4 linked regions of the Homo sapiens genome follow. The main gene of each other region encodes a partner of the protein of the gene in region 4 in a complex. Each region holds a gene or a part of one and is shown on either strand. Other genes may lie near its edges.

Evidence for each region.
Region 1: ZC3H13 (region 4) and METTL14 share a complex: the UniProt entries of both Homo sapiens proteins name them as parts of the WMM complex.
Region 2: the proteins of ZC3H13 (region 4) and VIRMA are in contact, whole or in part, in a cryo-EM structure (PDB 7VF2), measured with the Homo sapiens proteins. Residues at the interface, in NP_001317494.1 of Homo sapiens: Pro1492, Leu1493, Asp1494, Val1495, Ile1496, Asp1497, Val1498, Asp1499, Trp1500, Ser1501, Gly1502, His1507, Leu1518, Lys1520, Phe1521, Pro1523, Val1526, Met1527, Arg1529, Val1530, Gly1531, Ile1532, Ser1533, Lys1535, Leu1536, Ala1537, Gly1538, Leu1541, Lys1544, Val1545; in NP_056311.2 of Homo sapiens: Leu521, Ser529, Tyr531, Gln532, Leu535, Glu536, Ile538, Leu539, Leu540, Asp541, Val544, Val547, Thr548, Ser551, Leu554, Gln555, His558, Glu561, Val562, Ser564, Glu565, Lys567, Gly570, Asp571, Ala574, Glu575, Thr577, Ser578, Glu621, Glu625.
Region 3: ZC3H13 (region 4) and RBM15 share a complex: the UniProt entries of both Homo sapiens proteins name them as parts of the WMM complex.

The regions. Positions count from the first base shown.
Region 1 is NC_000004.12:118,701,646-118,709,641, forward strand, and holds part of METTL14 (N(6)-adenosine-methyltransferase non-catalytic subunit METTL14), read left to right. Parts: intron 1-1,240; coding exon of another isoform or gene 1,241-1,290; intron 1,291-2,289; coding exon 2,290-2,406; intron 2,407-3,965; coding exon 3,966-4,176; intron 4,177-7,996. UniProt on the Homo sapiens protein: The METTL3-METTL14 heterodimer forms a N6-methyltransferase complex that methylates adenosine residues at the N(6) position of some mRNAs and regulates the circadian clock, differentiation of embryonic stem cells and cortical neurogenesis.
Region 2 is NC_000008.11:94,486,701-94,494,696, reverse strand, and holds the end of VIRMA (protein virilizer homolog), read left to right. Parts: intron 1-1,878; coding exon 1,879-2,045; intron 2,046-2,787; coding exon 2,788-3,119; intron 3,120-4,614; coding exon 4,615-4,758; intron 4,759-5,836; coding exon 5,837-5,991; 3' UTR 5,992-7,008; downstream 7,009-7,996. UniProt on the Homo sapiens protein: Associated component of the WMM complex, a complex that mediates N6-methyladenosine (m6A) methylation of RNAs, a modification that plays a role in the efficiency of mRNA splicing and RNA processing.
Region 3 is NC_000001.11:110,335,396-110,343,372, reverse strand, and holds the start of RBM15 (RNA-binding protein 15), read right to left. Parts: upstream 3,997-7,977; 5' UTR 3,968-3,996; coding exon 1,105-3,967; intron 1-1,104. Other genes in the region: uncharacterized protein LOC124904276, read right to left, coding at 4,432-4,938. UniProt on the Homo sapiens protein: RNA-binding protein that acts as a key regulator of N6-methyladenosine (m6A) methylation of RNAs, thereby regulating different processes, such as hematopoietic cell homeostasis, alternative splicing of mRNAs and X chromosome inactivation mediated by Xist RNA.
Region 4 is NC_000013.11:45,953,223-45,959,000, forward strand, and holds the end of ZC3H13 (zinc finger CCCH domain-containing protein 13), read right to left. Parts: intron 4,076-5,778; coding exon 3,905-4,075; 3' UTR 1,243-3,904; downstream 1-1,242. UniProt on the Homo sapiens protein: Associated component of the WMM complex, a complex that mediates N6-methyladenosine (m6A) methylation of RNAs, a modification that plays a role in the efficiency of mRNA splicing and RNA processing.

The sequences.
Region 1 (7,996 bases), on a different chromosome or scaffold from region 4:
GGGTCTCAATTTTGTCACATTTTATTGGTTGACACTTCGTTTTTATGACATATTATTTATTATACACCAAACTATCTCATTTAATGATTCCAATTTGGGGAGGTATCCATTTGACAATTGAAAAATTTAAGTAGGATTATATGAGATAATAAGTATGATTATATGGAAATAAGATTGTGCCCAAATTCTGAAATTCTACAATTACTGTATATTCTTTATATAAATAGTAAGGCTGTTGGGTAACATCATTGCTTCCATCATTTATTAACTCCAAGGTAAACTATAACTGTGTTTCAGTTGGATATCTCCATTTTTTTGGTGTTGGCTCTTCAAGATGCTATAGAAAAGTAAGAGCGAAACATACATGTTTTTATAGGTATATTGGTGTTTACTTTGTTTTAACTTTAATATCTGACTTTGATCTTTCCTTTCATTCCCCAAATTAGATTGAAAATGATTAGAAGGTTTTTATCTTTTTTTTTTTTTTTTTTTGAGGCAGAGCCTTGCTCTGTCGCCCACGCTGGAGTGCAGTGGTGCGATCTTGGCTCCCTGCAAAACTCTGCTTCCCAGTTGAAGCAGTTCTCCTGCTTCAGCCTCCTGAGTAGCCATCCAGGAGGTTTTTATCTTATTTACTTAATGTAGCAGTTTATCATACTGGTGAGAGTTCGGCGAAAAATGATTTAAAAAATAATTCAGCATGAGAAATACTCATGAGATTTTGATAAATTAGTGGATTAGGGCATGTAGAATTTAGGTCATAGTGATGTTAATGACACCTGGTGCAAAATAAATATTTAGTAACAGGAACAGATATTGATCTTGATTTTGGAGATTTTAAAATAAAATTCTGCTGGGCGCAGTGGCTCATGTCTGTCATCCCAGCACTTTGAGAGACAGAGGCGGGCAGATCACTTGAGGCCAGGAGTTCAAGACCAGCCTGGCCAACATGGTGAAACCCCATCTCTACTAAAAATACAAAAATTAGCACAGCATGGTGGCACGTGCTTGTGGTCCCAGCCACTTGGGAAGCTGAGGCATGAGAATCACTTGAACCTGAGAGGCGGAGGTTGCAGTGAGCCAAGATTACCACACTGAACTCCAGCCTAGGTGAGACTCCATCTCAAAAAATAAAATAAAATAAAATTCTGAGTTTCATTTTGAGGTGTTATCTTACATTACCCAATAAGCATTCCTGAAAAGTGTATGTTTTATACTCTATCTTTTTTTTTTTTTGGTTCAGGGGGAACTCCCAACAGGATTTCCTGTGGTGGAAAGGAAGCTTGTTGGAAGGTTTTATTATTATTATTATTATTATTATTATTATTATTATTATACTTTAAGTTCTGGGATACATGTGCAGAACGTGCAGGTTTGTTACATAGGTATACATGTGCCATGGTGGTTTGCTGCACCCATCAACCCGTAATCTACATTAGGTATTTCTCCTAATGCTGTCCCTCCCCTAGCCCCCAACCTGCCTCTACTATATCTTGATATGTACTTGATCATCATACCAGCAATACTGTACTTATTTGTTTATTTTTCCCTCCTTTACTCTTAAAGTTGATGGGGATAGGGACTGTGTCTTATTCATGTTTTTATTTCCAGCAGCTAACCAGCACTGGCATATGGTAGACTTTCAGTTGTCACTGTGAGCAGTCATTTAGCTGGTATTTGTTTTATGTTAATGTATAACAGCTTCTAGGACATTAAGGTTCACATCTCTGTTTTCTAGATTATATAGAGATGAAAGTACCATTTTACCCAACAAAGAGATACACGTAACAATTTTAAGTTTGAACATTTTTACAGTTGTATTAAAAATAGAAATAAGATTTTATAAGACTCTCATTTGAAGTTAGCGTTTAGAAAATTTTCAATAGTATGTAGCTTTGTCAGAGAATAGAATATTGAGTTGGCAGGAATCAAATTGTGTTTTGGATTGTTTTGTGATTACAGAAGGTCTGAGTGCTTACAATTTAAAACCCCATGTCCATTGATGACAATAGAATGTAGAATTGGGAGATGATGTAATCCTTTCTATGTTTTGATATTTAACTATATATATGACATTGATATCCAAAAGATATATATGCATTCCGTATTATGGCTATGTATTTAAAGACTGGCATTTCTTTTTATATTCTACACTGAAACAAAATTACCTTGAAACCTTGGAATATAGTGTCTGAAACCTCTAGAAAGTTTTTTTTAATGCTGGTTGTTATTGTTAAGTATTGTTTATTTCTTTAAGTTAAGGATTTGTGTTTAAAATTCTTTTGTTTCTAGTGTTTACGAAAATGGGGTTACAGAAGATGTGAAGATATTTGTTGGATTAAAACCAATAAAAACAATCCTGGGAAGACTAAGACTTTAGATCCAAAGGCTGTCTTTCAGAGAACAAAGGTATTGCCTTTACTGATTTGTTTTTTTTAATTTTTGTGATTTTCTCTCAAGCTTTTCCAAATAACTGTATACTGTTTAATTAACTTCAGTGAAAAGGTCCTTTTCTTAGACTTGTAAAGACAGCATTGAGCATTACAGGAATACATCCAAATTAGTTTTAAAATGTTTTATTCATTATCTTAGATCAACCCCACCATGCTAGAAAGGGGAGTATATATTCCTCCATGTCCTAAATGCCATATTTCTAAGTTAGATAAAGGCTTTTGATCACACTCACCCGCAGAATTTTTCTAGGCTCAGAAAGAAGAGATAGCAAGATCGCAAGACTCGAGTTGGCCAGCTTAGAGACGTATTTCTCTCTTCTTTCCTTCTTTTTCCTTTACAAGAACCCCTGAGAACTTCTGTTTGTTGTGACTCTGCCCTGCTAGTATCAGGCTTTAACAGTTTTTGTTCTTACTTTTTAGGGAGCCTCTGGTGGGAGGGTCTTTCTTATTAAGTCTTTTTTGTACTGGAATCATGCCTAGGTAATGAAGCCTCCGTAAAATCCCAAGATGGGTTGGAGAGCTTCTGGGTTGGTGAACCTGTGGAGTTTCTGGGACGGTGGTCTGCTTGGAGAGGGCACAGCAGCTCCATGCCCCATGCCCCATGCCGCATACTTTTCATTATGTGTCTCTTCCATCTGGCTGTTTTTGAGTTGTATCCTTTTATAATAAATAGGTCATAGTAAGTAAAGAGCTTTCCTGAATTCCTCGAGCTGTTCTAGCAAATGATCTAACCTGAGGAAGAGGTCATGGGAACCTCTGATTTATAGCTGGTTGGTCAGAAGCACAGGTGACAATCTGGACTTGTGATTGGTATCTGAAGGTGGGGCATTCATGTGGTTCTCAGCCCTTGACCTGTGGGGTCTGCACTAACTAGGTAGATAGTGTCAGAATTGAATTGAATTATAGTGTTGATGGAGAAGTGGAGAATTGCTTGGTATGGGAAAAACCCACACATCTGGGATCAGAAGTGAAGTATTCTGAAAATACTGAGTGTTGTGAGTGCGTAGAAGAGTTTGTTTTTCTTATTTACATGGCAGTCTTTCCTCATCCAGAGATCCAGGTTTTCCTGTTGTTTTGTTGCCCATAGAACTGTATCTCACCAGAAATGGTGGCTCACTTCTGTAATCCCAGCACTTTGGGAGGCCGAGGTAGGTAGACCACTTGAGCCCAGGAATTTGAGACCAGCCTGAGCAACATGGCGAGACCCTGTCTTTACAAAAAATTTAAAAATCAGCCAGGTGTGGTGGTGTGTTCCTGTGGTCCCAGCTACTTGGGAGGCTGAGGCGGGGGATTGCTTGAGCCCAGGAGGTCAAGGCTGCAGTGAGCTGAGATCGTGCTACTGTACTCCAGCCTGGGTGACAGAGCGAGACCCAGTCTCAAAAAGAAGAGAAATAACTGTATCCCAAAGATTCCGAGAAATGAGGATTGTTTTAGAATTGAGGACATCAGAAATGTGAAAGGTTTTGGAATGACTGTTGATGAAAACAGATTAATTGGTCTGCTCTTGTTATTTAGGAACACTGCCTCATGGGGATCAAAGGAACTGTGAAGCGTAGCACAGACGGGGACTTCATTCATGCTAATGTTGACATTGACTTAATTATCACAGAAGAACCTGAAATTGGCAATATAGAAAAACCTGTAGAAATTTTTCATATAATTGAGCATTTTTGTCTTGGTAGAAGACGCCTTCATCTATTTGGAAGAGATAGTACAATTCGACCAGGTAGGACCTCAGTTAACAACAACTTTTATGATTCTTTGGGTTATGCATGTCAAGAAATAGGACATGGTGCTGTGTAAAATAAAGTTCTTATGCATTTGATTCCTTTTCTTGCTGTACTTCAAATATGAACAGTTTCAGGTCCACAGCAAAATTGAGAGGAAGGCACAGAGACTTTTCCATATACCTGCTGCCCCCACACATGCATAACCTTTCCAGTTATCAGTATCTCCCAACAGAGTGGTACATTTGTTACAAATGATGAACCTACATTGACACATCATAATCACTCAAAGTCCACAGTTTACATTAGGATTCACTCTTGGTTGTAGTAATTCTGTGAGTTTGGACAAATGTATAATGACATCTATCCACCATTATAGGATCATACTCAATAGTTTCACGGCCCTAAAAATCCTCTGTGCTCCACTTATTCATCCCTACCCACAACTCTTGACAACCACTTATCTTTTTACTGTCTCCGTAATTTGCCTTTGTCAGAATGTTACATAGTTGGAATCGTATAGTATGTAGCCTTTTTAGATTGGCTTCTTTCATTTGGTAATTGGCATTTAAGATTTCTCCATTCCTTTTCATGGTTTGATAGGTCATTTCTTTTTAGTGCCGAATAATATTCCATTGGATGTACCGCAGTTTTTATATCCATTTACCTACTGAAGGACATCTTCCAAGTTTTGGCAATTATGAATAAGCTACAATGGAAATCTGTGTACAGGTTTTTGTGTGGTCGTAAGTTTTCAGCTCCTTTGGGTAAATACCAAGGAGCACAAATGCTGGATTGTATGGTAAGAATGTTTAATTTTGTAGGAAACTGCCAAGACTGTCTTCTGAAGTGCCTGTACCATTTTACATTTCCACCGGCAGTGAGAGTTCCTGTTGCTCTGCATCCTCACCAGCATTTGGTGTTGTCAGTGTTCAGGATTTTGGCAATTTTAGTGTGTGTGTAGTGGTATCATAATGTTGTTTTAATTTGCATTTTTCTGATGACATATGATGTAGAACCTCTTTTCATATGCTTATTTACTATCTGTATGCCTTTTTTGGTGAGATGTCTTTTAAGGTCTTTGGCCCATTTTTTATTTGGCTGTTTGTTTTCTTATTGTTGAGGTTTAAGAGTTACTTGTATATTTTGGAGAATAGTACTTTATCAGATTTGTTTTTTGCAAATATTTTCTCTTATTCGGTGACTGTCTTCTCACTGCCTTGTTGCATGTTTATTTTTATTTAATTACTTTCTGCTTTTTTATTTTCTTTCTAGTTTCTTTGGATTTACTTGCTGTCTTTCTATCTGAAGTATTTTTAGATTGATATTCAGGTTAGGGGTACAGGTTTAATTTTGTACTTGTAAACTACTAGTACAAAAAGAAAGAAAGAAATTGAATAGGCAAGAGTTTCAAGAAAGAAACTCTTGCAAAAATTTAGTATTAGCTACATGCAAATAAGGAAGAAAAATTTGATGGATCAAAGTGTAGATGTTTGGGAGTTAGCCATATAAATAATAGTATGTGCAATTGAGAGTCTGTTCAAGAGACCTTAATTTATGGCCAGGCACTGTGACTCAAGCCTGTAATCCCAGCACTTTGGGAGGCCAGGGTGGGCAGATCACTTGAGGTCAGGAGTTTGAGACCAGCCTGGGCAACATGGTGAAACCCTGTCTCTACTAAAAATACAAAAATTAGCTGGGTGTGGTGGTGTGTGCCTGTAATCCCAGCTACTTGGGAGGCTGAGGCAGAAGAATCACTTGAACCTGGGAGGCAGAGGTTGCAGTGAGCCGAGATTGTGCCACTGTACTCCAGCCAGGGTGACAGAATAAGACCCTGTCTCAAAAAAAAAAAAAAAAAAAAGACCTTAGTTTATTAAGTTGCTCCTCAAACACACTTCTTCCTCAAGGACATAGCCTAAGGTATTTCACATATACCTTAGGAATACAATTTACCATTGCTTTAAAATAAAATTTACAGATAACTATGTGAGTCAAATACACTCTGAAGCCAGACAATTTTTTTTTTTTTTTGAGACAGGTTCTCACTCTTGTTCAGGCTGGAGTGCAGTGGCACGATCTTGGCTCACTGCAACCCCCGCCTCCCAGGTTCAAGTGATTCAGCCTCCTGAGTAGCTGGGACTGCAGGCGTGTGCCACCACACCTGGCTAATTTTTTGTATTTTTAGTAGAGATGATGTTTCACCATGTTGGCCAAGCTGGTCTCGAACTCCTGACCCCAAGTGATCGCCCGCCTTGGCCTCCAAATTGCTGGGATTACAAGTGTGAGCCACCACACACCCAAGCCAGACTATTTTAAACTTACTCTGTTCTTAGTAATACCTTTAGAATTTCTGATAAAACACAATGTTGCTGTGCAGAATTTGGAAGAGAGGGGAATCCCTTGGACTTCTATAGCCAGTTTACTCTGCAAGGATTTCCATGTTTTACGTAAGAGACAGTATAGCAAGGGAGACAGAGTATTAGTTATTTTTATTATATCTTTAAATTTTCTGTTTCTTATTCCTTGTTTGTGGTGTTGTGTTCCACATATATTGAATATTATCTTCCATAATACCACAAACATGCCAAAAAACAAACTAGAAGGCAGCAAATAAAAATCTCATAGGTTTAATAGTCAGTGAGAGCCCATAGGTGTGGAATGTGCTCTTGATCATGGTATCTGCCAGGTAATACATAAAAGACACAGTATAATTAACCTTTTTTTCTTCAACTATTACAAATCTTACTGTATTCATGCACTTTTAGAAACTAAAAATGTTTTAAAAAACAATGAACTAAGTATTGTACAGAAATGGCTACTGTATTTTAGAATGTGATCCTAGTGAAATATTTTTCATTTTATAGCTTTTTATGATGCATCTACTTTTCTAAGAAATAACCTAAGGATGATGGGGCAGATATATTATAAACCTAACTTTGCAGATAAATAACCTAATTCTTACAGATAATTGGACCTGTCCCAAATAATGCTGTGTCTCTTATAATGCTCCAGAGGCATATTTTCAGGGTCCCCTACAAAGGGCATGTCTGTAAGAGTCACCACACCCAAAGAACCCCAGAGCACCGTGTCTGTATTGGGTATTTGTAGTTCCTTCCATTCTAAAGACAGTTTAATCAATCAGAAAATATCCTTATTACAAGAAAAGTTGTCTAGCAATATAATTGGCAAAATAGCTGTTTACCTACAGAAGTATAATGTGCAGTGGAAATTCTGAGAAAGAAGAAATAATTTTCATTTCATGTAAGAAATATATTTGAATTGGATGTTGAAGGGTGGGATTTTTAACAGGTTGACAGGATAGAAAAGAAAATAATATGGGCACAAAAATCGGGGTTAGTATAGAAGCAGTTACTATAGTAGTTCATTGTTTTCCTTAGAGGTTCATGAAAAGCATTAATGAGAAATGTTATTGGAAAGTTCATTCAGCCATCATTGTAAAAGATCTTAGATTTTATATTTATGAATTTGGGCTTTGTGGAAACAGTTGGAAGGTTTTTGAGCAGAGAAGTGACATGTTTTAAGCTTTGCTTTAGGCTTTCCACTTTTAGAGGGAGGAGAAGCTATAGGTTGGGAGATCATTACAGTATATATGTGTGTCTGTTACACATGTGTTATATGGTAGGGTATTGACCTTGTAAAAAAAAATAAAGGCTTAAATTTGAGGGTGGCAGCAGAAATGGAAAGATAGGAATGAGTGGGAGTAACATGGTAGTGGTTGAATTTCTCAGACCTATCAACTGAGAATATTTTCTAGTTAGCAAGTGTAGAGCAAAAGTTGGTTCCAAGATTTTAATCAGA
Region 2 (7,996 bases), on a different chromosome or scaffold from region 4:
AAGTTTTTTCTCCTGCTTTTTTTGCTTCTTTCTAGTTAGTGATCTGTATTTTGAGGTTGTGACTTTTTTGCTAATTTTTTTTTTTTTTTTTTTTTTTTTTTTTTTGAGACAGAGTCTCACTCTGTCACCCAGGCTGGAGTGCAGTGGCACAATCTCAGCTCACTGCAACCTCCGTTTCCCGGGTTCAAGTGATTCTTCTGCCTCAGCCTCCTGAGTAGCTGGGATTACAGGCCTGTGCCACCACGCCTGGCTAATTTTTTTGTATTTTTAGTAGAGACTGGGTTTTACCATGTTGGTCAGGCTGGTCTCAAACTCCTGACCTTGTGATCTGCCTGCCTTGGCCTCCCAGAGTGCTGAGATTACAGGCGTGAGCCACCATGCCCAGCCAAAAAAAAAATTTTTTTTTAATATAGATAAAGTCTCACTCTGTTACCCAGGCTGGTCTCACTCCTAGCCTCAAACAATCCTCTCTCTTTGGCCTCCCAAAGCGATGGGATTACAGGCGTGAGCCACCACATTTGGCCAGAGAATGTAACTTTTTTAAGGGAAAAATCACACTTTTGCATAAGTTCTATGAAGCACTTTGTTTTCTTACTTGACGGGGTATAGAACAGGGAAAAGTATCCCATAAAACAACAGTTTATTCTTGCATTTGGGTTCAAGGAGAGGAATGGTTGTGCTATGGTGTGGCTCTCAGTTTGGAAACTTGTGAAGAATGTATTTGTTATAGTATAGTATGAATGGGAATTGACATTCTTAAACATAATGCTGAATAGGTAAGAGTATAATTAACTATTTAAAATTTATTGCAGTCTGTTCTATGCTTCTCAGAGATGTGGTAAGGCGAATTATTTTAGCCACATCTTATTATACAGTACATTGTTCCTTTTCTTTATCAAAGAAACATACTGGTGTTCATCATATACAATAAAACTAAGAGAATGATTTGCTTCACATTTGTATTTAGTGTGTTGAGGGCTGCTTTTCCTTTTTTAAAAAACCACATACAATTCAATTAAAAGTGCATTAAAAATTAATTTCTTTTTAGTGCAAGCTGTTCAGTGGTTCTTTAAAACTGTCCTCTCCAGTAGAATTTTATGCAATAATGCAAATATTTTGTAGTCTGCCCTGTCCAAAACAGTAGCCTCATGTGCCTGTTGTACAATTGAAATGTGGATGACTAGGGAACTGAATTTTATTTTGATTTAATTTTGATTAATTTAGATAGGCACATGTTGTTAGTGGCTACCACGTTGGGCAGCACAGGTATAAAATATTTGTTAAAAGTTACTAATTTTTTAACTTTAAGTTGAATCACAACTGTCTTGTGATGATAATTGTAACCCTCTGGATTAGAGAAATTTTAGGTATCTTACATTTGATAAATTTGAATAAAACCTAAGTAAACTGAATGTTGATTTCCCTGAAATTAAACTTAGATGGGAACCTCATTAAATGCATAGAGCTTTTGGGAATCTGTGGCACAGAATCTTTTTGTAATAGAAATGTTGACTATATAAGGCTGGCAGAGTATGTTATTTTCAGATTCTTTTTTTGGAAAAGTTCAGGAGATATTACAGTGTTAATTTATATAGACAAATACTGAGTTTCCTGCTCAGGCATCAAAGTTCTCCTAGATTAATAGCCCTGCTTTGAAGAATGCCACACACAAAAAAAGTAGCATTACTAAGGTGTGTGTGTGTGTTTGTTTTTAAACTACCAATGCCATTTGCTTTTTGAAAAGATGAAAGAGGTAGATCTATAATTTATTTCTTATGAGAGGCAAATATAATTTATAGGTAATAAGAATTTCTGTAGTCAAATGTTATGCTAATAATTACATTTAATATGTGTTTTGTTTCATTATTATGACTGCAGGTAAAGGTTGACTTAATTGAACTCTCTGAAAAATGCTGTAGTGACTTTGATTTGCACTCAGAATTAGAGCGCTCATTTTTGTCAGAACCATCATCTCCAGGAAGAACCAAGACTACTAAAGGATTCAAACTTGGGAAGCACAAGCATGAGACCTTTATAACGTCAAGGTAAAATTTATTCCACTGAAGATCTCAAATGTCATCACATAAGCTTATGTATTTTAGTATATTTTAAGATAGACACATGCGGCCGAGCGCGGTGGCTCACGCCTGTAATCCCAGCATTTTGGGAGGCCGAGGTCAGGAGATCGAGACCATTCTGGCTAACATGTTGAAACCCTGTCTCTACTAAAAATAAAAAAAAAAAAATTAGCTGGTCGTGGTGGTGGGTGCCTGTAGTCCCAGCTACTCGGGAGGCTGAGGCAGGAGAATGGTGTGAACCCGGGAGGTGGAGATTGCATTGAGCCGAGATCACGCCACTGCGCTGCAGCCTGGGCGACAGAGCAAGACTCTGTCTCTCAAAAAAAAAAAAAAAGACACATGCTATTAAACTAGAAAGGAAATTAACATAGCATTCGAATCATGAACATTGTTTGAATTTTTTAAATTTAAACGTAATAATTTGGCCAGGATATACCCAGTACATTTGTTATATTGTTTTCTACAAGATTTTGGAAGGTTTGAATAAGAAGTGAACTGGATTATTTTAAAACATTGTTATTCATAACAATGAAATGTGAGTACTTTTCTTAGCTAGTTTGTTATATTATCCCAGAAGTATGATAGATACTTGCAAAGTTAGCAGAATTGGAGTACAAAAAAACTGAAATATAATTTTGGGTATTATAAAGATTATTTTTGCTAGAAACCTGAAAGAAAAATGTTTTATGGCATGTTTTTGTTTTAATAGTGGAAAATCTGAATACATTGAACCTGCCAAAAGAGCTCATGTTGTGCCACCACCAAGAGGAAGGGGCAGGGGAGGATTTGGACAGGGTATACGACCTCATGATATTTTTCGTCAGAGAAAACAGAACACAAGTAGACCACCATCTATGCATGTGGATGACTTTGTTGCTGCTGAAAGTAAAGAAGTGGTTCCTCAAGATGGAATACCTCCACCAAAACGGCCACTCAAAGTATCACAGAAGATTTCTTCCCGTGGTGGGTTTTCAGGCAATAGAGGAGGACGGGGTGCTTTCCACAGTCAGAATAGGTTTTTCACACCACCTGCTTCAAAAGGTAACTAATTAGTATGTATTTTCTAATGGGTTAGAATATTGGAATGTTAAAATATTGAATGAAAGTGATTTAGATGGAAGAGATTCAGATAAACAGTTTTCCTGTTGCTGCAGTTGAGCCACCTCTGGACTAGTGGTACTGTTTGCAGAGTACTCTATTGGATAGAAGAAAGAAACTTTTTTTCAATGAACCTTTCATGCATTGTACTTTTAATAATGAGTTTAGAAGTCTTGGCTAATTATTCCCCCCGGCCTTTTTTTTTTGAGACAAGAGTCTTGCTCTGTCGCCCAGGCTGGGGTGCGGTGGTGTGATCTCAGCTCACTACAAACTCTGCCTCCCTGGTTCAAGTGATTTTCCTGCCTCAGCCTCCCAAGTATTTGGGACTACAGGCATGCACCACAATGCCCAACTAATTTTTGTATTTTTAGTAGAGATGGGTTTTCGCCGTGTTTGCCAGGCTAGTCTCAAACTCCTGACCTCAAGTGATTCACCCCCCTTGGCTTCCCAAAGTGCTGGGATTACAGGCATGAACCACCGTGCTCAGCCTTATTTTCCTTTTTACATTGAGAATTATACATTTTCTGAGTAATACCCTTACATTATTTTCACAATTATACTTAACAGTTTTCTTAAGATTGTTCTGTGCAGTTCACCATTGATCTGCCTAATCTGCTTGTTTTCTAATGTTATATTTAGTCTGTTTGAAATTGTTACAAGATTTTTTTTTTTGGAGACAGAGTTTTGCTCTTCTTGCCCAGGCTGGAGTGCAATGGCGCAATCTCGGCTCACTGCAGCCTCTGCCTCCTGGGTTTAAGCGATTCTCCTGCTTCAACCTCCCGAGTAACTGGGATTATAGGCATGCGCCACCACACCCGGCTAATTTTTATATTATTAGTAGAGACGGGGTCTCACCATGTTGGCCGGGCTGGTCTCGAACTCCTGACCTCAGGTGATCCACCCACCTTCGGCCTCCCAAAGTGCAGGGATTACAGGCGTGAGCCACTGCACCTGGCCTTACAAGATTTTAGAAACTAGGGATACTTACAGAAATTATACTTTAGTAGTGGATTGATAAACATGTTTTCATACCTGCTGAGTTAGGAGGGTGAGAGTGAAAGAGAATCTGTGTTTATATTAATAACAAACACTTAGATTAGGTGTGTCAGGAACTGTTATAAGCACTTTACATATTATAACCTCATGTCAACCCCATGAGGCAAGTTCTCTTAGTACTCCCAATTTGCAGAAGAGAAAATTGTCAGTCAGCTGACCAGGGCACATAAATACAAGTGGTAGAACCAGTATTTGATCCCTGGCAGTTTGGCTCTAGAGCCTCTGCTCTTAACCACTGTGATGTTGCCACTATATAGTACAGTCAGTTTGCAGAATTTCAGTTTCTTTTCCATTCTTTTGAAGATTAAGAAAAATCTGTCACTTAAAAGAATCCAACTGAAGTTGTGAAAAAAGTGATTTTGATTGTGCTGTTTGTGTTTAGGAAACTACAGTCGTCGGGAAGGAACAAGAGGCTCCAGTTGGAGTGCTCAGAATACTCCTCGAGGAAATTACAATGAAAGTCGTGGAGGCCAGAGCAATTTTAACAGAGGCCCTCTTCCACCATTACGACCCCTTAGTTCTACAGGTATACATCCTTGCTACTTGATATTGCTGAGAGAAGGGAAGTAAATTCCTCCTTTAAAATTGTTGATATCATATACAGAGGGGGCTAGGGGTGCTAATCTCCCCATCTCCTTGCTCCACACAGTCAAAAATCTAAGTATAACTTTGACTTCCCCAAAACTTAACTACTGCTAGTATACTGTTGACTGGAAGCCTTACAGATAACATAAACAGTTGATTGACACATATTTTATATGTTATATATATATTATATAATGTGTTACAATTAAATAAGCTGGAGAAAAGAAAATGTTATTAAGAAAATCATAAGGAAGAGAAAATACATTTACTATTAAGTGGAAGTGGATCTTCATAAAGGTCATAACATTCCATAGGCTGAGGAAGAGGAGGAGAGGTCTTACTTTCTTAGGAGCAGCAGAGGTGGAAGAAAATCCTCATATAAGTGGACCTAGGCAGTTGAAACCCATGTTGTTCAAGGGTCAACTGTACTCTCATTCTGGAAGAGAATATTTTAGAGTATAGACTTAAAGTTCTAAAGTTTATATCCTTGAATGAATGCCCAATATACATCTTCTGTAAAAATAATCAAATTTTTAGTTTCTGAACTGTTTGTATAATCTGAACAGTTTCATGGTGATGTGCTCTTATTTTTATGTTTCAGTAATGAAAGCCAATGCTTAAGGTATCTTTCTGACCACAAAGTATTTTAATAACAGAGATACCTTTATACAGCATATATTTTTTTGGTTATAGTATTGTCTTAGGTGTGTAAGCACATAACCTTTTTTTTTAAAACATTTATCTAGTCCAGAATTTTACTTATCAGAAGTAGCTTTTGGTTTCAAATGCACATTTTTAAAAAATAATAGTTTTATTTAGGATATAATTCTCATATACCATATAGTTTACCTGTTTAAAATGTATAATTCAAAAATCTTTGGCCCATTCACCGTGCTTGCACGTGAGCTTTAAAAGAGAATAGAGTAATTCTTGGTTTGAGCTCAGTGTCGTAGATTAGTATTTATAATCTTGGAAAAGAAAGGACATTGGAACTAAAAACTGTATTCTTTCTTTTACAGGTTACCGCCCAAGTCCTCGGGACCGTGCTTCTAGAGGTCGTGGGGGACTTGGACCTTCCTGGGCTAGTGCAAATAGCGGCAGTGGAGGCTCAAGAGGAAAGTTTGTTAGTGGAGGCAGTGGTAGAGGTCGTCATGTACGCTCCTTTACACGATAAAAATCCTTTTGGGAACATCTTAACTGTATATGAACATTTCACGAGGACAATAAAAATAAGACATTGAAGGACCAATTTAGACTTAGCAGTTATCTGGAGACATCTGAGAGAATATTTTTATCTGAAGAAAGCAGAATTTGTTTGATACCTAACAAGATTTCAATAAAAATCCAAACTTTGTATGTACGTTTGTATATATTTTCCCTTTTTTGTATGACTATTTATTTAGAAAATTTCTAGGTGAAAAACTAAATGATGTTTTGTATTTTTCTTGCCTATAGCACAGATATTCTCAAACTTTCTCAGCTCATGACACTATTTAGTGCCTCAGTACTTTTTTCACAGCATACCTGGTCCAAAAGAAATATCTAATACTTGTGTTTATTAAGCAGTTAGATCCAACAGCTTAATAAGAATGTACATCATCACCACTAGTAACTGTGGACACTGCATGTCTCAAACCTTGGAATCAGTATCATTTTCTTTTCCTCTCTGCTTCTTGCACAGTACTTTTTATCAAACTGCTGAAAACCCAGTTTTGTAAAGATATGTTGTTATAGAAAGGAATATAATGCTATTTAATGTTGAAAATGTAAACTACCTCAAAGTAGTAGTTTATGTGATGTCCAACAGGTGTTGCTATGTTTTTCTCAAAAATTTTAAAATATTGTGTGGCACCCATGTTAATTTGCTAAGGTGCCCTGCTACACAGTTTGGGAACCATGGCTGTACCAAAAGAAACAAAATACTCCTCTCCTTTGTATTAGAAATCTGAACTTTGCATTTCAGCTTTGGACCTACTGACACTATTTTATTATACAAATTATTTAAAGCCTAAAATAAGGAATATCCTAATACTATTATTTTGGGAATCAGAAACATCTAATAAAGCTGGACTTTATACATAGAAATAAAGCTTACAACTTTGAGAAAGTAGCCATATTTTCCCCAAGATACGTCTTAACACACTGAGTCTATATAAGTGGCGTAAAATACAGAGTTATCTTAATCAGAAAAGGAGTGTATGAGTCTCATTCCATCCTTTTATCAATCTCTGTTTTGGAGAACTATTTGTGAGTGAATACAATCTTCATTAAGAAAACACTTTGAAGAAAAGCTTAGCTGTAAAGAATCAGAGGTTTAGGTGAAAGGTTATGGCAATCTTTTCATAACTAGTGGCCTTGAAAAACCCAAGTCTTGAGCTGCTGTAAGAAAATACCATAGACTGGGTGGCTTAAACAATAAAAATTTATTTCTCAAAGTTCTGGAGGCTTGGAAGTCCAAGATCAGGGTGTCAGCATGGTTGGGTTCCAGTGAGGGCCCTCTTCCTGGCTTGTATGCAGCTACCTTCTTAAGTGCTCACATAGTCTTTCCTTGGTGCTTGCTTGGAGAGAGAGCGAGCTCTTGGGTCTTTTTCTTCTTACAAAGGCACTGTTCCCACCATGCAAGTCTCATCCTCATGATCTAATCTAAATCACAGTACCTCCCAAAGGACCCACCCTTTTAGTACTACTACATTGAGGGTTAGGAGTTCAATATATGAATTTAGGGAAACACAAGACTCAGCGCATCAAGGTAACTTAAATCCCCTTTGATCCTGAAACCTAACAGGCTCATTTTCCCCAAAGATATATTTTACACATTAGGTAAAATTCGAAATTTGCCCCAATGTCTGACACAAATACATGTAAAAAATAGTTAATGTTTCTTAAGTAACTGTGTTTCTTAAATAAGAACATGGCCATATATAGAAACATAATTTCTTGGTTTGTTTTTTAGCATTAAGCTGGATATGATCTTTGAGAAATATCAGAAAGCTGTTTTTGCTGTTTGAGTTAATACCCAGTAATTCAGGCCAATAAAGGTAATAAATTATTAGTGTAGAAACAAATTAATGCCAGGCAAATTTAAAATGTCTTGAGTGACTACAAGTCCTAGATAAATGAGAAGGGAAGGAATCCACCATGTTGACCAGCCCTTACATGCAAAAATCACTTAGTCCTTA
Region 3 (7,977 bases), on a different chromosome or scaffold from region 4:
AAACATTTTCAATAATGTAATGTCACTACTGTTTAAATATGAAAATAAAAAGACAAGCAAAATTTTAAAAGAGCATGTCAAAGGCATTTTATGATGACTTTTTAAGAAATTCTGCAATCCAAATATGGCTGATTTAAATGCCCACTGAAATAAAAGATGACTATGAGCCTGCAGACAACTCTTCTTTCTATTATTGAAACCAGAAATTTGAATTGATACAAAAACAAAAACTCATCTTTGATGAAGAACACTTAGTTTCGAAATATGCACGATTAGAACTGTACCTGCTACACCTCTCTGAAAAAGTCAGTAAAAACACCACCACACACCAATAACTGACCAAAGAATTCTGATTTTAAAAGCACCTACTCACTTCTTGCATACTAGTGTAAGCATAAGACATATATGGTTTGTAACATAGTCCTTAATTTTTACTGAACAGTTACTGCTACAAACCAAAAGTGCATATATGGGATACAGAACTCTAGAACAAATGATTTAAAAAATGCATGTTAAAGCAAACTCTCTGGGAATAAACTGTATCTTAAGAAATACTCAAATACCTGATTAAAATAATTACATTGCTATACAATTTACCAGCATATCTTTGAGATCCCTGATCAAATTTCAGTCACACACATTTCTGGTAAAAGAATTATTTACCTACACACCAATCGAGTCATTTTTAGGTGGCTATTACTCTCTTTATATGGTCAGTGGACTCCTTTCTCCAAATTCTGACTTTTCAAAATTTTGGTTTTGTAACTCTGAGGATTTTTTAAGCTCAAGATTAAAAAAAAAACAACTGAATAGAGAAAAAAAATTACTCATAAGGGTGGGAACTCCTAATTAAAGCAAATCTGTCTGCCTGCCTGCTACCTTTAGGGCATCCCTTTCACTTAAAATAATAGCTAAACAAACAAAAAAATAGCTAAACTGTCCTGATTTCTATTTTAAAGACGTTTATAAAAATATAAAAAAGAAAATGCTACAACTAACAACTAAAAAGAAAATTGCATCTGATGCTGTATCCCATTACACATCACAAAACAGGAACCATGTCAAAGTAGTAAATACAAGTTACACATGGACTTTAGGACGCACCACGGACAATGATCATGACCAGGTAATCTTCTTCAGATTTGGCCAGTGCCTTGGCAGGGGAATCCAGGAACTGCTGGGAGAACTCACAAGGTGGGAAGGCATGAAGGACCCCGGTGTTTTCCTTGTCTTTGTTGCCCCCCACAGGGAGGCTGATCACCCCGGCTGCCTGCTTTTGCTTTAAATAGGACACAAGGTTCCTAAGTGGCCTCTGAGTAGAAGTGGCAGTGTCTGATGCAGCTGAGGAAGAGGAGGACCGGCTGTCAGAACTTCCAGGCACAGCCAAAAGAATGGCATAACCATTGGGCCCTGCTACTTTGATGCGTCGAGTTACTTCATCCAACTTGGGCTGGTCCAAACGGAGACGCTGAGTGATCTTGAGCTGGGCCACTTTGCCTCCAGTTGAACCCTCCACAAGAAGACTACTAGCCACTTGGAGGTCACCCTGCAACAGATGCATGTTGGAAGGAAAGTTGCTGTTCTTCAGTAGAAGCATGCCCTGCCAGGCCAAACAGAGTTTGGGAGAGGCTGATGCCACAGGGGCTGTCCCCCCATCCTGTTTCTGGGACGGGGACTTCAGCTTGGAGGAAGCAGTGCTGGTGCTAGGTGCACTCCCATCAGAGCGGTCTTCTTTTTTCAGAGGGCTTTTTCCCTCAGTGGGAGCAGTTGTCCGGTGCTTCCTATCTCGTTCAGCTGATGCAGAGTTTTTACGGTCTCGCTTGTCACCCTGGCTCTTCTCCAAACTACCTCGTCTGTCTCTGATTGGAGAGGGCCTTTCCAAGAGAAGACGGGAAGATCGATCATTGTCGCTGTTGTAACGATCCCGGCTACTGCTCAATTCTGGACTGCGGTCAGGAGAAGGAGCGCAGTGACGTTTTCGTGGGCGGTCACTCTCAGGAGACCTATCCAGATGACGTCCTCCACTCTCCTCAGGCAGCCTTCGCTTCCTAGGCTGGTCTCTGCTGCTGGGCAGATCTCGATCACCTCTGTCCCGGTCCAAGGACCAACCATCCCGCCTGCGATCTAGGCTATCCAGTGGCTCGTAAGCAGGCACAGAAGTAGCTGCAGTCCGAGTGCTGCGTTCTCGGACTGGGGGTGGGGGTGGCACCCAATCAGAGTCAGGATAAAGGTCCCTATCACGATCTCTGTATAGTAAGGGTGGTGTCCTATCCCGAGCACCCCTCAAAGGGTCTGGTGCCCGATGTCCAAAAGCATCTGTCACCAGCTCATAATGAGTCAAGGGCAGAGGCTGCAGATACTGCTGCTGGTAACGATGTTCGGTGTCGGCAAAGTCTACTCTAAGGCGTCGATCTGGGCCACCAAGTGGGAAGCCCCGCATATGGGTCCAGGCAGCATGCGCTGCATCCAGGCTTTCATACTGGATATATGCCCAACTATCACCTTTTCGGTAGTCTATGGTGCGTATGGTGCCAAATCGATCAAATTCTCGTGCCAGGGCAGCAAGAGGAACCCAAGGTCCCAGGCCTCCCACCCAGAGGCGGGTGGTGGGTGTAGCTTTACCATAACCAATTTTGATAGGATTCCGAATTATAATTTTGCCAGACATTGCTAATTTGGCCCGGTGAGACATATCTAAGTTCTCAAATTTGAGAAAGCCGTAAGTACTAGTCTGGCCGCGAGAAGGCCTCTTGATATCTACTTCTGTGATGACTCCAAAGCGATCAAACGCCCTTCTTAAATCACTCTCCGTTACAGTGATGTCTAGGTTGCCCAAGAAGAGCGTCCGGTTAGCTCGCTGATCATCCTCGGGTGAAATCTCATCCACTTCTCTGAAAGGAGCAGCACCTGCTCCAGCTCCCACCCTTGGCTCAAGACTGTATGCAGGGCGCACTCTCTCATAGAACGGGTAGTCTCTTTCTCTCTCCAGGTCTCGAGGCAATGGTGGCGGAGGTGGAGGGGGCAGGCGGCCAAGAGCCAACTGCTGCAGCCGGTAGTCTCTGTATCCCAAAGCAGCGCCACCAGGGGAAAGTGATCTCTGGCCTCCACCACCTCCAGGGGGGTGCCGGTGACCACCTACAGAGGCCCCGACCACACTGGCTGATGGAGGATAAGTATCTTTGTCTAAAGGGGAGCGGCTGCGGCGCCGGCTCACATACACAGCTTCTATCTTCAGAGGCCGGTCATAGAGCACCAGGCGGCCTCTGGCATGCTTGGCCGCCCGCGCGTCCTCTGGCCGCCGGAAGTTCACAAAGGCTACCCGCTCATCCCCGCTGCCAGAACCCGACAGATGACTGATTTTCACACTTACATCACCGAAGCGTTTGAACTCATGAAACAGGCCGTCCTCCACCGCTTCGTCACTAAGCTGGGACCCCAACTCGCTTATCTTCAGAGTCTTGTATTCCGCGCCGTCCCCGCCGCCGGGAGCTGAGGAGGCGGCCCCAGAGGAACGTGACTCCCCGCCTCCACCCCGGGAGCTGCTGCGCGATTCGCCCCCGCCCGAAGAATTTTTGGTGCTCGGGGAGCTATAACTATGCAAGCGGCTACTGGAGCTGCCCCCACCGGTATCATACTCGCGGCTGCCACCTCGACTGCTGGACTTGTCCAGGTGGAGACTCCGCCGCGACCCACCGCCGCTATCGGTCTTTCCGCTGCTGCTCCCATTGCTGCCACCAGAGCCCCCTAACTTCTTGCTCCGCTCACCGCGGGAAGTCGAGTCCTCACCACCACGGGAGCGTTTGGCCTTCACTGGCGAGCGCTCTTTTCCCTTCATTGTTGCGGGTCGTCGGAGGTCGTCTCCGCGGAGCTGAGTAACCCGCCGCCCCGCGCTCGTTTCACACAGCGGAACCGCACGCCGCCATCTTGGACTCCGCCGCGGCACAGGGTCCCGCCCCGCAGTCCTCATTGGCCAATTGCTCTCTCTTCTACAGTCTCATTGGGAAAATTATTTGTCTATCTTTACATCTCCCCGCGCTCCAGGAAGGCGCCCGCCCAACCACTGTTATTGGGTTCCCAACCCCCTAGTCGGAGTACCTCATTGGTTACATTTGTTGTCTATCTTAACGGTTCCTCGCGCCAGACTGTAGCTCCGCCCCTCGCACTCTGCGGTCACGTGACCCAAAGTGTTGAGGTGTTGATTGGACAAAAAGTCTGCCCTGTAACGGTACTTCTTGCTCAGTGACAGCAGCAACCCACCTCCTTATCCCTTTCATTGGCTTATAAACCCGTCCTTTAAACCACTATTTGGGAGGTCGGGCCATCAGTTTCGGCGTTTTTTCCAGAGAGGCAGGCTCACAGCGATATCGCGAGAGACGGTAAGCTCCCTCTTTCGACCCCCTTTTTCCAACTCCTCCGGCGGCTAAAAGAAGTTTAAATCTGATTGGATGTCGGCAAGGAAGTTGATAGGCTGAAATAACTGTCCATCACTCGCTTAAAGGGGTAGGCCTGTATAACGGAGGAGGCTGACTGAAGGTGAAAGACTAGAACACGTGCTTGCTGTGCGACGTCACTTAGATGTCGCGAGAGGGTGACTGTGCGCCAGCCCCGCCTCCCCGCGTTTTCGGCGTTCTCCCCACAAACATTTGTTAAGTTCCGTGGGGTGTTTGGCTGTGCTTCGGCCCTTGGAGTTCGAAACTTCTGAGCTCCCCGCCGTCGTACCTGTGCCGGCCAAGGGGCGGGGCAGGCTTTCCGGCTGTCGGGGCCCTCCAGTCCCTCAGGAAGCCGTCCTGGGACGCCTAGCGGACACCATTTTACGTCGCTGTGGTAGCTGAGTGAACAGCCGGGGGGAGCCCCGCCCCCCGCGCGCGGGAGAGCGCCGCCCGCGGTCACCTGGGCCCGCGGGGCAGAGAGTTCACGGTTCCTGCAGCCTCGGGTCATGCTGACGCCCCCGGGCGGTGCTAACACGTAACACGCGGGACCTCGAGAGCTAAGAAGCAGGGCGACTAAGACGCAGCCCTCGCCCAGGAGCCCGTCTCTCCCGCGAGCTACCCGTTCCCGCCCAAGTACTCCGGGTAACCGAGGGGAGTGACCGTCGCTCCCCGCCTCGTGGCCCGCGGGCGGAGCCGGAACTGTCGGGACACCGCGGACGTGTCTTTGGGCGGCATGTTTTATGTTGCGAATCTGTGTGGATTTTTAAATTCTGTATTCCCCTAAAATAGCAGTGTTTTTAATATGTAATGCTTCTACCCTGAAAATCACCAAGCGAAATTTAGGCTCCATGCAGATATGTCACTTGTTTTTCCCCCTGTGGCTTCTTGTATCCCTTGGCACTCTTATTGTGTGTTAAAAGCCAGCAGCACAGGCACCTTGCGGCCGCTCCAGATCCACCTCGTTTGGCTCCTTCAGTCGTTCGCCGTACAACTTTCCTTTCCATAGTGCGTTACTGTGGCGGACAGAGCACCTGTGAGAGGTGCAGGCGATGCCGAGCTTAGGGGGGTATGGCCTGTGCCCCAGCACTCGCCGGTTGCTGGAGGGACGCAGCGCTGAGGTCACCACAGCCTTTAGACTGTCTGCAGCCCTCCCAGGTTCGCGCCGGGGCGGAGGTTATGAGGATTCTTGTATTGATCCGGTCCTCAACCCTATTTCCCAAGATCCAATCTATAGTAGAGGGTGTGAGGTGTTTTTAAACGTGACATTTTTCAAGGTAACAATAATATCCCAAAAGCTGAAACCTAAACTTAAAAACTGTGTTAAGATTAGGGACTGTAACCTAAATTTAGCCTTGGCTGAGCCATCCTTCTTTTTGTAAATAATCGTGAGGAATGTGAAGCTGGAGGCCTTCTATCTCTTGATTAGATCAAAGAAACTCGAAGGAAGAAGCTCAATTGTAAAGCATAAAAATCCACAATATTGTAATGTGTAGACATCTTCATTGTATTAAAATGGGAAATAAAACTTCATAAGGCATAAAATAATGTGTATAATACGCTACCATTTGTGGTTTTAAAAATGTTTGTATTTATGAGTATGTACATTTAAAAAATATATTTTCATGGAAACTTTCTTGACAAATACACGGGAAATTGTTACTAGGATTGCCCTGAAGAGGTGTGCGAGGGTCTGGAGTAGGAGGGAGACTTTACTTTTCTTTGTAGAAATCTTTTGTTTCTACAAAGGGCGCTATTACTCCTTCAGTTTAAAAAATAACATTTTTAACTTTCCTTAAACTATTTTTATGGAAAAAGTTTAAAATATATAAAAGAATACTTTAAAGAACTCCCATGTGTACCCAACACCCTATTTCAGCAATTATCAAATCATGTCAATCTTGTTTCATCTGCATCACTCTTCCCACTCTTCTTTTCTCCATTATTTTCTTCCAGACTTACCTGATACATTTCCTGCCCCAGTTGTGGAATCAGCCATTTCTCCAGAGAGCTCTGGTTCCTTTTAGTGGGAGATGGTATTTAAAGATAAAAATCTGGATGCTGGAGGATAAAAAACACATGAACACATTATTTGTAAAAGCATGAAATAAAAAGTTATAGCTGGGTTTAAATCTGTTTCAAGGTTATATTAATAGACCACAAATGGAAATTGAAGTTAAGCCATTATCTGATTACTCAATGTAATAACCAATCGAGATAATAAACCAGGCACCAGAGTGACTTTTTAACCTAAATAGACCTGCTAAGGTGACTCACTGATCAAAGAAAAAGATAATGACCAAATCAGTAGTTTTCCAAACTTCAAGATAGGGGTTGAGGGAGCACAAGATTTGAGAGAAATAATTCAGGGAGATAAACAGACACCCAGTCTGTGTGAACATGCACCAGAGGCATGCCAAGTTTAGTGGCTTGCCACTTCAAATACCAGGGAGCTTGATGGAAGCTACTGCCTGCAGCTGGCTATAGTACAAAGGCTTGCCTAGGGGGACTGGAAATCTGCCTGGAGCCAAGAGTGCTAGTAAGTTTTATGGTTAGATGGAAAAGGCCTAGATTCCATTAAGAGTAACAGCCAAAATATTGCCTGTGATGTGTATGTGTGTGTGTGTGTGTGTGTGTTTCCACAACAAATGAATAAGTTGGATCCATGCTGTAGTTAAAATAAGTGATTGTTTTCATTTCCTTTGTGTTATTGCCCCCAAAATTACCCCCTCCCCTGGCTTCCAGCAGATACTACCTGAAAATCCTTTGTGTTCTTTAAAGCAGTGGTCCCCAAACTTTTTGGCATCAGGGACCAGCTTCATGGAACTGTTCCACCTCAGATCATCAGGCATTAGATTATCATAAGGAACACACAACCCACATCCCTCACATACTCCATTCACAATAGGGTTAGCCCTCCTCTGAGAATCAAATGCCTCTGCTGATCTGTCAGGAGGCAGAGCTCAGGCAGTAATGCTCCCTCCCCTGCCCCTCACCTGCTGTGCAGCCAGGTCCTAACAGGCAACTGACCATTACTGGTCCACAGCCTGGGGTCTGGGAACCCCTGCTTTAAAGCATAAAGCTGCTTAGTGAGTTTTTTATTTTTTTTGTTTTTTCTTTTTTGTTGTTTTGTTTTGTTTTTGTTTTTGTTTTAGAGACAGGGACTTGCTCTGTCACCCAGGCTGGAGTGTAATGGTGCAGTCATAACTCACTGCAACCTCAAATTCCTGGGCTCAAGCAATCCTCCCGATTCAGCCTTCCATGTAGCTAGGACCACAGGCACACACCACCACACTAAGCTAATTTTTTAATTTTTTGTAGCAATGGGGTCTAGCCATGTTGCCCAGGCTTATCTCAAACTACTGGCCTCAAGTGATCCTCCTATCTCAGCCTCCCCAAAGCACTGGGATTACAGATGTGAGCCACTGCACCCAACCAAGTTAGGTTTTATCCTCTGTTTACATGTGTGCTTTAGAGAGGGCACATGTGTAAAAGTGGATAAAAGTGACCCATGGTTTAGTTGGCCAGGACTTTGAACCCTTCTTTTGCT
Region 4 (5,778 bases):
TAGAATATTCTGTTGAACAGCACTGTTCTAGACCTTCTCTCTAGCAACCCCCATCCCCTCCACCCAGTGGTGAGCCATAGTAGTATTTTCGTCTTGGAATTCACCAAAGCTCTTTTCCTAGGCCTTTGCATATCCCCATCCCTCTGCCTGAAATACTCCTTCCCCTTTTGCTCTTTGCTAGCTTCTTTTCATTTTTTAGGACTCATCTCATACGTAAGACCTTCTTGATAATCTGAAGTAGTACCCAACTCCCAATCGCTACACTTATTTCTCATCTCAGTCATTTGGTTTTTTCTTTAATTGCAATCACTGCAATTTACATTTTATTCATGTCTATTTACTTCCCATCTTTACCTAAGCTACTCCAATTGTACTTCTATCACAGTATAACCAGGTGGTGGCTATCGGCTGTAATCCGAACACTTTGGGAGACTGAGATGGAAGGACTGCCTGAAGCTGGGAGTTTGAGATCATCTGGGCAACATAGTAAGATCCCCCCCCCACCTTTTTTTTTTTTTTTTAAACTTGAGACAGGGTATCATACTGTTGCCTAGGCTAGAATGGAGTGGCGCCATCACAGCTCGCTGCAGCCTCAACCTCTTGGGCTCAAGCAATCCTCCTGCCTCAGCCTCCCTGAGTAGCTAAGACTACAGGCACGTGCCACCACACTTGGCTAATTTTTGTATTTTTTGCAGAGATGGTGTCCCACTTTGTTGCCCAGGCTGGTTTTGAACTCTTGGGCTCAAGCAATCCTCCTGCCTTGGCCTACCAAAGTGTTTTTTTAATTTTTCTTTTTAAAATTAGCCAGTTATGATGATGCACACCTGTAGTCCCAGCTACTTGGGAGGCTGAGGTGGGAGGATCCCTTGAGCCCTAGAGTTGGAGGCTGCAGTGAGCTATGATCCTGCCACTGCACTCCAGCCTGGGGGTCAGAGAAAGACCCTGCCTCTGAAAAAAAAAAGGGCTGGGCATGGTGGCTCATGCCTGTAATCCCAGCACTTTGGGAGGCCAAGGCGGGAGGATGGCTTTGAAGCCAGGAGTTTGAGACCAGCCCAGGCAAGACCCCATCTCTATAAAAATAATTTAAAAAAGAAAAAAAAATATGAAAGAAACAGCTCAATAAAGTTGAGAAAGTATGTTTACAGATGCATGTAGAAAGTTATTTAATAAAAATATTTCACCATTTAAACTTGGATTCCCCAGAGTGTCATTCAAAATACTGAAATGGAAAGATCAACAAAATTAATGAATAAAGAAAGTTTATTGGAGATTATTAAAGAAAAATGATAAAATAAGGCAAGTCCTAGATCAGATTTAAATACAATATTTAGAAAGATGGCTATATAATTTTAGCTAGGAAAATCAGTAAAAGGGAATATCCTTAAAAGTGGGAGGGGTTCATATAACCTTTTAAAATAGCAAGTTGAGGTGTAAAAGCATCACCAACAATAGTATGTACCTTAATCTTTACACAATTGGACAGTGAGGAGCAAAGTGGGAGATTCTACCAATGCCACTTACAGAACAGATTTTCAAGTTAATAAGTCATAAAATCCTAATGTAGTCATAGGCTAGGATGGTGACGACAATCTGCAATTACTGGTCAGAGTGAAGCGAAGTGACAGGTCAGATTTTTCAGCATATCAAGTTACTACTTAGGTATGCTTACAAAACTTTGTTAAATAAAGTTGGGTATTGTTAGTATACCCTTTACTAAATGGTGAGGATAGCTGCCAAAATAATCAAAAGGCTAATTATGTGTTAACTCTCATTTATTTTGGATTGCAGACATACTCTTGCCCTTTATCTATCTACACAATTCCTTATTACCAGCAGCTGGAATCCAGTTGTGCAATTATGGCAACTGGACAGACCTGAGCCGTCAGTTATGAGATAGATGACCTTTTAATTGTACTAGCAAACAATTTATAGACTGGAAGATTGTTTTTCGGGAATACCAGTTTAACTGAGACTTTAATTATGGTCCAAGAGCTTTTATGAGAAATTCAATCAAAAATTTTGCTTTAGAAAAATTTTATAGGTATATGTTACTAATACTGAGAATGGTTGAATTAAAAGAAATTGAGACTGAACAGTACATTTCCACTGGAAACATAAAGCTCTGAATGCTGTGACTGAGTGAACAAAGGAATAGTTCTAAATTTTCTTTTGCAACATACATAACAAAAAGATTTCAAACTGAAAGACAACAGGTTTAACTGAATGACAGATTTAACTACATAGTTTTCATTCTATAAATAAATAACTTGTGAAATATCCCTGAAGTCAGTGGACAAATGGGGAAACCATTATTTTTGTCATATTCTACAATTCTGAGAACTAGGATTAGAAATTCTAGGACTTTAAATCTTTGTGCTACAGAGAACAATATTATCCACTAAAATCAGGAAGTGGCTTCCTGAAGGGTATTCATTCTCTGAGGTCATACATTTTTTTTTTCTTTATTCAAAACACTTAGTAAAGGAAAAGGACACAAGGAAATTCTGATTAAAGTCTTCTCCTGCTCTGTTTGCAATTATACATGCTTTCAAAGTCATTTGAAAGTAAGACCATTTCCTTTGGCAGGTATCTTGTATAAAGTAACTTTACAACATATGTTTCTTGAACAGAAACTTTACACCACTGTCATTATGTTACCTATAGAGACAAAACTACTAACACAAGTAATATGGGCTTACAATTATAACACAAACCTGTGAGAGGGCATGATAAAATTAAATTTTGATTGCCTTCTTTTATTATTATCACTACTACTGTCTGCTCACAAATTCTGTGGCCAGAGTCCATTTCAAATCCTTCTAAGAGTCCACTTCATGAGTTAAACATATACATATAGAACAAAGCAGGTATACTGTAATTTTTAAAAGTAAATCTGTTTTACATAGTACAGCTGGAGGCAGTTTAATATAATCAAAAGTTATAGCTCTAAAAAATATGATAGTAGAATATTAAACCTCAGGTTACGTTAGGTTTGTTAACTCTTGATTTGCTTTGAGTAATTTTTTTCTTCAAAAGCCACATTCCAAGAAGATGCCTTAAGTATCAATGAGCTATATTTGAAGTACATCAACTCTGTTTAAAGCTGTCCAACAATAAGGACACAAGCAGTAAAATATCTGAAGCATGAAACATGTAATGTTGATGACTAATGTTCTAGATCATCAGGAATAAGATTAACGAAGAGCAAAGTAAATCTAAAACAAGGAAAGGGAAGATACATTTATTAAAAATAAAAATAGTACACAATCTCTGATAACAAAAAAAGCATTTAGGGTCAAAAGACATCCAACATACATTGTAACAATGCACACATATTAATTAAAAAAAAGACCCATGAAATAATTTTTAAAAAACTTTCAAAAGGAAAAAACTATTTTGGCTTCCTTCTGCTGAAATTCGCCTATAAACATACCACGCCAGCTAGACCAGCATTCCCTTTCACGTGGTCTGTACAACATAGTACTGCACAATGTGAGCAATTACTTTGATGAACACATTGTTTTTGAATAAAATTGTTGGTTCTGTATGGATGATCCAGACATAAATCCATGGTTCCATTTCACAAAAATATTCATAGGCTGGAAGAGCAGTGACAACCATTTTCCAAAATCTTCAGTTTTAACAAAAGGCGCAGAATAAACTACTAAATCTAGATGTTTTCACATTATTTTGCATGAGTGTCAAATACTATGTAAAAATTAACGTAAAATCTTAAGTTGGCCAAAACTAGTGTCTCTAAAGATCAAAATTCTTCACTCTTTTAGCATGGCTGATAAATCTTTTCTGCCTTTGTCACTAATGCTTGTCAAACCAAAGAACTTTGCAAAAGAATATGCACTGCTGAAGGAAGACAGTACCAAAAATACCATATTGAACTTCGGTCTTAAGACACACACAGTTCCTGTTGGATACTGGACTGTGAAAGTTTATTATCTTCAGTCTTTTCATGTCCTGGAGCATGGCAAGTAGTCTTCCGCTTAAATAACCGAAGACTCAATCGAAGTAATTCATTGTCTACCATTGGAGCACTCGTGTAAGCTTGTTTTATGGTGCCCTATTTGAAGAAAACAAAAACAAACTTTAAAAAAGATGTACATTATTAGTAGGAAAGATGGGCAGGTTAACCTCTACCCAAAATATCAAAGTTATAAGAGTATTTCATTTTGGATATTAAATTAGCTTTATTGGATTTCAAAGCAAAATTAGAAAATGTGTTTGGGCTCAATGAATCTTTGAAAAGAAACTTTTAGAGGGCACCTAGTTTAACCTCTTGCTTAAAGTAGGAATCCTCTCAACAATTTCTGACAGGTAATCAACCGGTTTTTACTTTATCATTTCCAATGACAAAACAAACAAAAAACACACTGCACGTTCTGTTGTTGAATGGCACTATTTCTTCCATGTGATGGAATAAAAGCTCTTCTATGGTGCTACACTGTAATTCAATCTTACCTTTACTTGACAATCCTTCAGTTCTATGAAGGTAAGTGCCATGAGTTCCTTCCTCACATAGTTTTTCCTTCTGTAAGCCAAACATTCTATTCTATACTCCTTACCAATCTTTCAATGTCCCATAAAAAGTGAGCTCGAAAACTGAATAAATCCTTTAGAAGACAGCTAATCATGCAGTATGCTGAAGAACTACTACCTCCCTTATACTAAAATATGTATCTATATTATTGTGACTTAAAGTTACATTAGCATTTTTTGGAAAGTTATTGTCATAGAGAAGGGACCAGGGAATGTTACAAAATACAAAACAAAGAAAAGTGCATACTGAAATCAGGGAGCAAAGGAGAATGACTGTAGTGATTCTGTCAAAAGTAATCTTGAACCAGACTTTTAAGTGAGGAAAACTTGATTATACAGTCAAGACATGTTTTAAAAATCTCCTGTTCCTCGTATTTGTTTCCATTTTAATCTTTGGAGATAAACTCATTCTTCTGTTTTTTAAAAATTGAATCCCCCCTACCCACTACCCTAAATCTGAGTATTTTTCTTTAATGAAGTAATCTTTTCTTTAGCAATGTTATATAGTCAAAGATAATTCTGTTTTCCTAACTGCCCCAAGTAAAAAGCTAGTGAAGTTAACCATTTTATCATTACTCTAAACTTTCTAAGCAAAGAATCACACCAACTCTCTTTTGTCATCCAGGTTGAGTAGTCCTCAACTGAAATGCTTTGGACCAGAAATGTTTCAGATTTGGAAATTTTTTTGGATTCTGGAATATTTGCATTACATTTACTTACCCAGTTGAGCATCCCTATCTAAGAATCCAAAATCTGAAATTCTCCAAAGAGCATTTCCTTTGAGGGTCATGTCGATGCTCAAAAGCTTCGGATTAGGAATACTCAGTCTGTACTACCTATACCCATCCACTCACCACCCCAAATAAAAATCCCAGTTTTTTTTTTTTTTTTTTTTTTTTTGAGATGGAGTCTTGCTTTGTCGCCCAGGCTGGAGTGCAGTGGCACGATCTCTGCTCACTGCAAGCTCCGCCTCCTGGTTTACGCCATTCTCCTGCCTCAGCCTCCCAAATAGCTGGGACTACAGATGCCCGCCACCATGCCCGGCTAATTTTTTGTATTTTTAGTAGAGACAGGGTTTCATTGTATTAGCCAGGATGGTCTCGATCTCCTGACCTCGTGATTCACCTGCCTTGGCCTCCCAAAGTGCTGGGATTACAGGCATGAGCCACCACGCCCGGCCAAAAATCCCAGTTTCTTAACTTTAAAGAGTCTAAAATGTTTTCATCT